Regions from separate parts of the Homo sapiens genome. Here region 1 is linked to region 2. A link means that fine-mapping ties the variant in region 2 to the expression of a gene that starts in the linked region. Tissue or cell type: testis. Region 2 holds a variant in brackets; the other region holds the start of a gene. All regions are shown on one strand. Distances are between the middles of the regions.

What was found. PIP is the estimated chance that this variant, and not a neighbour inherited with it, causes the effect.
Region 1: it holds the start of STK32B, and the variant in region 2 is fine-mapped to the expression of STK32B in testis (GTEx, PIP 0.90).

The regions. Positions count from the first base shown.
Region 1 is chr4:5,049,670-5,053,831 of GRCh38, forward strand. STK32B (serine/threonine kinase 32B) reads left to right here and starts at 1,811. Exons shown (of 12, transcript NM_018401.3): 1 at 1,811-2,246. The coding sequence starts at 2,195. RefSeq lists an enhancer at 2,513-3,051.
Region 2 is chr4:5,435,895-5,440,056 of GRCh38, forward strand. All of the region lies in intron 6 of STK32B (serine/threonine kinase 32B), which reads left to right. Among named protein-coding and RNA genes, the nearest start is that of LINC01587, 87 kb to the right of the region's middle. The variant T/A (reference allele first, on the strand shown) is at 2,187.

The DNA.
Region 1 (4,162 bases), 390 kb before region 2:
GGCCATCTGGATGTATATGTGCAGGTCACAGGGGTTATGATGGCTTAGCTTGGGCTCAGAGGCCTGGCAATCACACCCAGCTAAGTTTTGTTTTTTTAGTACAGATGGGGTTTCTCCATATTGGCCAGGCTAGTCTCAAACTCTTGACTTCAGGTGATCCACCCGCCTCAGCCTCCCAAAGTGCTGGGATTACAGGTGTGAGCCCCCACGCCCGGCCTAGCACAATATCAATATATTCCTCATAACAATGTTAGAAAGGGAAAGTTCTCTTATTAGCACCTTCTGGACTCAGATGAAGAAACTGAGTCCAGAACAGGTTAAGTAATTTATCCAAGTTAACTGGCTAATGAGGGGCAAAGCAGAATGAAACCTGGGTAGAATGAGCCCAGAGCCCATGCCTGTCCACATTCCGCCCTATGCTTCTTGAGCTAGGGGCCAGCTCTGTGTTCAGGGCATTGCCTGCTGCACACTGGCTACTCAGTGTATGCTTGTTGGTGGAATGAAAGGCAAGAAATATTTATTCATCATTTATTATATGCCGGGCACTGTTGCCTGCTTTTATAAATATTACCTGATATAATTCTCACAGACAACCCAAGGAGTTAATATCAATCAGCCCACTTTGCAGATAAGAACTCCAAAGTGGGACACATTGCCAGTAAATGGTAGAGCCAGCTCTGGGTCATGGTGGGTGGGCCTGCCTCAGACCTTCTCAGTTCTTTCCCACTGCCTTTAAGAGATTTTTTGTTTTGTTTTGTTTTGTTTTGTTTCTGTATGAGTCTCCCCGGCTTCCCTCACCCTTCTCCCAAGAAAAAGAAAGAAGGGGAGAGAACTGGAGAGAGAGACCAGGTAGGGGACGGGGACTGGGGGACGAGATAGGATGGAGAGAGTCACAAAGAACCCCTGCTTTCTATCAAAGCACGGACAGTGGTTCCAGGCGCCCAGCAGATGGCAGGATGTAGCCAAAGATTCCCTGCAGTCCCGGAGAGCTGGGCCCGCAGGACTGCAAGGCAGGGGGACCTGCCTGTCCCTCAGGGAGCGTCCTGGGAACCCGCGCTCGCCCCACACGTCTTGGGGCGCATCTGCCGCACCCCTTACTTAGGCACCCGCAACTGTGGCGCGTATCTCCCGATCCAGGCTCCCGCCGCAGGAGCCCAGGGACCCTCATGCTAGCCTCGCCCCTAAATCGGACGCCGATGCCGCCCAATTTTGGGGGAATCCCGAGACTCATGCCCAGCCATTCCCAGGGAGAATGGTTTGGGGCAAACTATGGCTGTCTGGGGCCTCAGTTTCCCCATGTACAATGAAGGGGTCAGATTAGTATCTAATCTTAAGGGGTCAGAAAGTAAACAGATACTTTCATTCATTAAACACTGAGAAAAACCTTAAGAGGAACAGCGTCGGTTGGAGAGCCAGCAGACACTCCACTGCCCATCCCAATATGAATGGGCAAATACAGGCTAGCGGGGAGTCCTGGGACTCCCTTCGCAGCCGGGGCCGACTAACCACAGACCTAAGAGCCCCTCTACCTCTAGACCTCCGTCTACTGCGCTCTAAAATATGAACGATGCTTTCTTACTGCTGGGTTGTCGGAGGCGGATGTGGGATGGTGCTAACAAAGCGCGTAGCCGAGGCCTGGCCATAGTGGGTGCTGACAAACCGCTTACTGCCTGCAGGGACCGAGCTCCCGGCCGAGGGAGGAGGGCCGAGCAGGGATTCAGATTCTTCCGGGCCGATCCCTTTCTCAGCTCCTTCCGCCCTGCCGCCGCCCACTGCGTGCTGCCTTCGTCCGTCCCCTCCTCCCCCGCTCCTTCCCCTCCTTCCCCTGCTCCCGCGCCGCCTCGCGTCTCCCGCCCGCTGTAGCCGGCGAGGAGCGCCGCACGTTGGCCCCGGCGCGAGGAGCTCCCGGGTTCCCGGGCGGGCACTGGAGTAAGGAGCTGCGAGCGCAGCCCGAGGCGGGGCACGGCGGAAGGCGCGGCGAGAGCGGGGTCCCTGCGAGCGCAGTCGGAAGGGCGTCCAGGAGAAGGGGGACGCCGTCCCCGCCCCTGCACGGTGCTCGGCCCCCTCGGGCTCCGCGCGCGGCTACAACCCGGACTGGGCGCGCCCCCGGCATCCCGCATCTCTGCGCGCGTCCCACATCCCGCATCCGGCATCCCAGCGGCCGGGCATGTAGCAGCGGCAGCAACGGCGGAATATGGGCGGGAACCACTCCCACAAGCCCCCCGTGTTTGACGAGAATGAGGAAGGTAAGAGAGCGAGAGGTGCGAATTCCCGCTTCGCGGGGCATCCCCTTCCTCCACCACCCTCGGCCGAGCCCTGCGGGGCACCGCATGCTGCCCGGCGCGGGGACCCAGGCATGGCCACTTCGCCCAGCGAATGCAGTGTGTGCCCGACCCGTGCCAGGCGCGGCGCTTCTGCTGAGGCAACTCCTAGGTACCCAGTGCCGTTTAGTAGTCGGGACGGTGCCTAGCGCGGGACTGGGGAGGCGGCTTCAGAGAGTTGAACCCGAAACCTGCACTTGGGGGTGTGGAAGGGAGGAGTTGACTTCGGAGGCCAGTCGGGATGGTTCTAGGCTCGGGCTCCCCAGGAAACCGAGGTTTCCTTGAGAGCCTGAGGCTGACGGAGGTGGCCTGGAAGGGCGGGTTGCACCGTGTGTCTGTGTGTGTGTGCGCGTGCCCACGACGCATTTGGTCTCGTGCAAGGGCCTGTTGGATGCAGCTCTCCTCAATCACCCAGGACAGAGGGAAACTTTTCTTTGCTAAACTCTGTGGTTCCTAGGAGGGCGTCCTGTTCTGGGCAGCCTCCCCCTGGCGCAGAAGTGGTGTAGGCTGTCCAACCGCATCTCAACTTCCTGGCTGGATCCTTGCGGTTCAGGTCGATAGAGCTCCCTATTTGGACTAGCAGAACCCTCTTTCCAGTGCAGCGTGTCCCTGGAAAACTTACTTCACCTCTCTGAAACATTAGTCCCTTCATCAATGAAATGTGAGTTATGATACCACTAGCTACTTTATAGGGTTGTTTGAAGCTTAACCACTAGTAATCCACGTGAAAAGTGCCTTATAAATGCAAGCAGTACCGAGCTGTGCCGTTTTTTATGTTAAGAGCCCTCTGCCTCTCAAAGCTGGTTTCCTACTGTGCTGACTCGCCAGTCTCCACTGTGCCCCAGGTAAGAGCTGAGACATACTGAGCACTTACTATGTTCCAGCCATGCTAGCACATAGTGTTCACTCCATCCTTTTCATGCCCCTTGAGGTGGCTACCTTAGAAAGGGGTCTGTCCTGGTTACTGCTGGTAAGAAGTAGAGCTGGGCTTGAGGCAGGACAGTCTGCTTTGAAAGCTGTGCCTGTCATCATTACCCAGGGCACTGGCTGTGTGCGTACATCATGGATGGCTTCTAGAACTCCCAAGGCTGTGAGTGCTACTCAGATGCCTGCCTGGACAGCCCTTCTCAAAAAGATAGATGAACACAGTCAAGGTTAAGTGAGCACCTGCTGTGTCAGGCCCACGAGAGCCTTCCTTAAAGGAGTTCCTAGTCTAATGGCCCTGAATGACCGTCCATGGTGATAAGGGCATTGAGAAACCAGTGCAGGGTCTTGGGGGCACAGAGAGGCCCCAGCTTTTCCTGATCTTTAGTCTGGAGCATGTGCAGGTGAGCAGGTAAGGAGCCAGTTGTGGACAGAGGAGAGGTGGGCACAGAGGTAATGGAGGCTCTTGCATGTCCCAGTAAGAGTTTGAACACTATGCAGCATCACCCTCAATTGCACGGGCTTGTGGTTCTAGCCTGGGTCAAAGGTCATGCTTTTGCTAATTTTCCTAGCATCTTTCTCTTTTATTTACAGAGGAAATTTGCCACCCTTATATTGAAAACCGTCTCTGTCATTTATCCCCAGCTTGAAAATATTCATTGGCAAAATAGTTATCTCTGGTGTAGCCAACCTTTTGATTTTCCTGTTCCTGTTCCTTATTCTATAAGCAGATTGGGCCTAAGGTTAACTGCCTGTTTCGGTGCTTGTTAAAATACAAGGTTATGAGGCCGGGCGCGGTGGCTCATGCCTGTAATCCCAGTACTTTGGGAGGCCGAGGTGGACGGATCACCTGAGGTCAGGAGAGGCCTGCCTGGCCAACATGATGAAACCCCGACTCTACTAAAAATACAAAAATT
Region 2 (4,162 bases):
GAGTCCACTGTACCTGTGAAGAGCCTTGTCTGGCACATGGTAGGTTCCTGGAGGACGAAACCCTAGGGCTGCACCTTCTGTGAGTTGGGAAAGAGTGTCAGGAACAGAGACAGAGACAGGGTGTTCCAGGAACAGCACGCAGCATGGAGCCAGGGTGGCCATGGGCAAGCAGGGCGGCACAAGACAGCTTGGGGCCTCAGTGCTGGGCCGTGGATTTGAACTGCCCTCTGGGCCAGACTGGTCCCCAGCCCTAGTACCTTGTGTTCCACCAAAAATTAAAAATAGGAAAGATTCCAGGATCAAGTCAAATACATTTCCAAGCCATGCCTGCTACTGAGTTGGGCCCCTGTGAACATCACCAAAGCACATCAGCACACGAAAGGCTCTGAGGATGATGGTAGAACACAGCAATATTGATGTCATAATCCCTATGCCACCAAAATGATGTCATTGGCTGCTCAGAATCCCAGCACTTAGATGCGAGAGAACTACACAGGTTTAGAGCTGAAAGGACATGGATCCAGTGGCATTGCAAGGAACACAGTTTATGAAACAGCCACCGTGATGGGAAGATCTTTTAGCAGGGAATACCATCATCTGTGGCATGTCAGAAAACTGACTCTCTGGTCAGCAGTGAGAAGGACAGATTGGAGGTCTCTCTGGGTCCAGAGGCCCAGCTGGGAAGCTATGCTGCTCCTAGGGGACTAGAAGGGAAAACAAGCATCAGAACATGAGCAGCATGTGAGCAAAGCTGAGGAAGGGAGGGTACACGCGCTATTAGGAGTTAGAATCACGCAGAATTGGCAGCTGAATATCACTGTGACAGTCATGGGAATTCCCTGAACCTAGGAGTCAGGACCAAGAATTCTAGACTTGACCTCAGGGGTACTACTGGGTGGTTGAGGCAAGCTACTCTTCCTCCTCAGGCCCAGTGTCCAATTCTAATAAGGAGGTGTGGAGAACACGATGAGTTTCAAGGGACCCTTCAGCCCTGCGATGTTGACATCTCGAGATGCTGTGAGCTGTTTCCACCTCTGTTGCAAACATCAGTGAGCCAGACAAGCCCTATGGCATCAGGGTGAAAGAGCCAGTCCACACATTTATTAAGTGCCTTCTGTATACTGGGCTGAGCACCAGGTCCTGGGAGGGAAGGAAGGAGGGTGGAAGGGTGCACCAGGGCACCAATCCCCAGATAACTCAATTACTCCTGGCGGTTGCCCAGTACACGGGAAAGGACCCTGGAGTCAGAAAACCAAGAGGTGCTAATCCCAGCTCTGCTGTGCTAACTGGGTGACCTTGGCAAGTTCCTTACCCCTTGTATTCATTTATTGTGTCTGCAAAACAAATTACTACGAACTGAGTGGCCTGAAACAATAGAAGTTCATTTTCCCACAGTTGTGGAGGCTGAAAGTCCAATATCAAGGGGCCAGCAGGGCCATGTGCCCTCAGAAGCCACGGGAGGATTCTTTCTGCCTCTTTGAGCTTCCAGTAGCTCCAGGCGTTCCTTGGCTTGTGGCCGCATTGCCCTGATCTGCCTTTGTCTTCACATGGCCGTCTTCTCTGTGTCTCAGATCTTTCCTTTCTCTTATAAAGACATCAGTTGTTGGATTTAGGGCCCAATCTAAATCCAGGATGATTTTATCTTGAGATACTTGATTACATTTACAAAGACCTTATTTTCAAATATGGCCCTATTCACAGGTCCCAGGAGTTAGGACTTGAACATAGCTTTTAGGGGGCAATGATTCGGCCCACTACATCTCCAAATGCCTCTGCCTCCTCATCAGAAAAATGAAGATCATAGTAGCATTTATCCTGTTGGGTGGTTGGGAGAATTAAAGAGGTAATATAGTCCTTAACATGGCACCTGACAAATCACGGTTGCTATTGTTCAGATATGTGGTTCACACCTGTCCTTCCAGCTCTAAACCTGTGTAGTTCTCTCACGTCTAAGTGCTGGGATTCTGAACAGCCAATGACATCATTTTGGTGGCATAGGGATTATGATATCAATATTGTTGTGTTCTACCATCAGCTCCAAGTGTGTGGGGGAGGAGGGAATGTCACCTTCTCTAGGACTGCAGACATTTGTCGCTTGTCTGATCATGACAGCCAGGACAGGATCACTCTGCTGCTGCTTCTACCCTGAGTTCTGAATGGACTTGGGGCTGCCAGGCATGACAAGG[T/A]TTGATGGGGAACACCTCGGCACACACAGCCATTCTGCACTGCTGGGTGCACCCTGCGCTATTGGAGCTTGTGGGCTGGCCCAGCATGAAGGGACTCCTTTTCTCTCAAGCCCTCAGGACTGAGAAGAGGAACAGGCACACACTCTGGTGCAGGGAAGGAAGTCCCTGTAGGCTGAAGCCCAGCTTCGGGCTCAGTGGTGGGATCCAGGTGGGATTCGGAATAGCACAGATCAGTGCCCAGCATGTACTAGGAAAGCATTAAATATTCACTCATCCGATGCTTAATGAACAAGTGTGATCACTGACTTTGGAGTCAGGATGATCTATCACCGATAGGAAGAGGCAGACAAAAAGATGCTGAAAATACAAAACACACAGAATTTGGAGACTGATCGTTCATGAGGCTGAGGAGGATGGCATTTAGGAGGGTTCCCAGATTTCTGGTTTGGGTAACTGATGGACGATGGGGAGGCCAAGCATGGCAGAGGAAGCGGAGGTTGGAGTGATTTGACTTTTTTTGTTTTTGTTTTTGTTTTTATACTTTAAGTTTTAGGGTACATGTGCACATTGTGCAGGTTAGTTACATATGTATACATGTGCCATGCTGGTGCGCTGCACCCACTAACTCGTCATCTAGCATTGGGTATATCTCCCGATGCTATCCCTCCTCCCTCCCCACACCCCACAACAGTTCCCAGAGTATGATATTCCCCTTCCTGTGTCCATGTGATCTCATTGTTCAATTCCCACCTATGAGTGACAATATGCGGTGTTTGGTTTTTTGTTCTTGGGATAATTTACTGAGAATGATGATTTCCAATTTCATCCATGTCCCTACAAAGGACATGAACTCATCATTTTTTATGGCTGCATAGTATTCCATGGTGTGTATGTGCCACATTTTCTTAATCCAGTCTATCATTGTTGGACATTTGGGTTGGTTCCAAGTCTTTGCTATTGTGAATAATGCCGCAATAAACATATGTGTGCATGTGTCTTTATAGCAGCATGATTTATAGTCCTTTGGGTATATACCCAGTAATGGGATGGCTGGGTCAAATGGTATTTCTAGTTCTAGATCCCTGAGGAATCGCCACACTGACTTCCACAATGGTTGAACTAGTTTACAGTCCCACCAACAGTGTGAAAGTGTTCCTATTTCTCCACATCCTCTCCAGCACCTGTTGTTTCCTGACTTTTTAATGATTGCCATTCTAACTGGTGTGAGATGGTATTTCATTGTGGTTTGGATTTGCATTTCTCTGATGGCCAGTGATGATGAGCATTTTTTCATGTGTTTTTTGGCTGCATAAATGTCTTCTTTTGAGAAATGTCTGTTCATGTCCTTCGCCCACTTTTTGATGGGGTTGTTTGTTTTTTTCTTGTAAATTTGTTTGAGTTCATTGTAGATTCTGGATATTAGCCCTTTGTCAGATGAGTAGGTTGTGAAATTTTTCTCCCATTTTGTAGGTTGCCTGTTCACTCTGATGGTAGTTTCTTTTGCTGTGCAGAAGCTCTTTAGTTTAATTAGATCCCATTTGTCAATTTTGGCTTTTGTTGCCATTGCTTTTGCTGTTTTAGACATGAAGTCCTTGCCCTTGCCTATGTCCTGAATGGTAATTCCCAAGTTTTCTTCTAGGGTTTATATGGTTTTAGGTCTAACGTTTAAGTCTTTAATCCATCTTGAATTGATTTTTGTATAAGGTGTAAGGAAGGGATCCAGTTTCAGCTTTCTCCATATGGCTAGCCAGTTTTCCCAGCACCATTTATTAAATAGGGAATCCTTTCCCCATTGCTTGTTTTTCTCAGGTTTGTCAAAGATCAGATAGTTGTAGATATGCGGCATTATTTCTAAGGGCTCTGTTGTGTTCCATTGATCTATATCTCTGTTTTGGTACAAGTACCATGCTGTTTTGGTTACTGTAGTCTTGTAGTATAGTTTGAAGTCAGGTAGTGTGATGCCTCCAGCTTTGTTC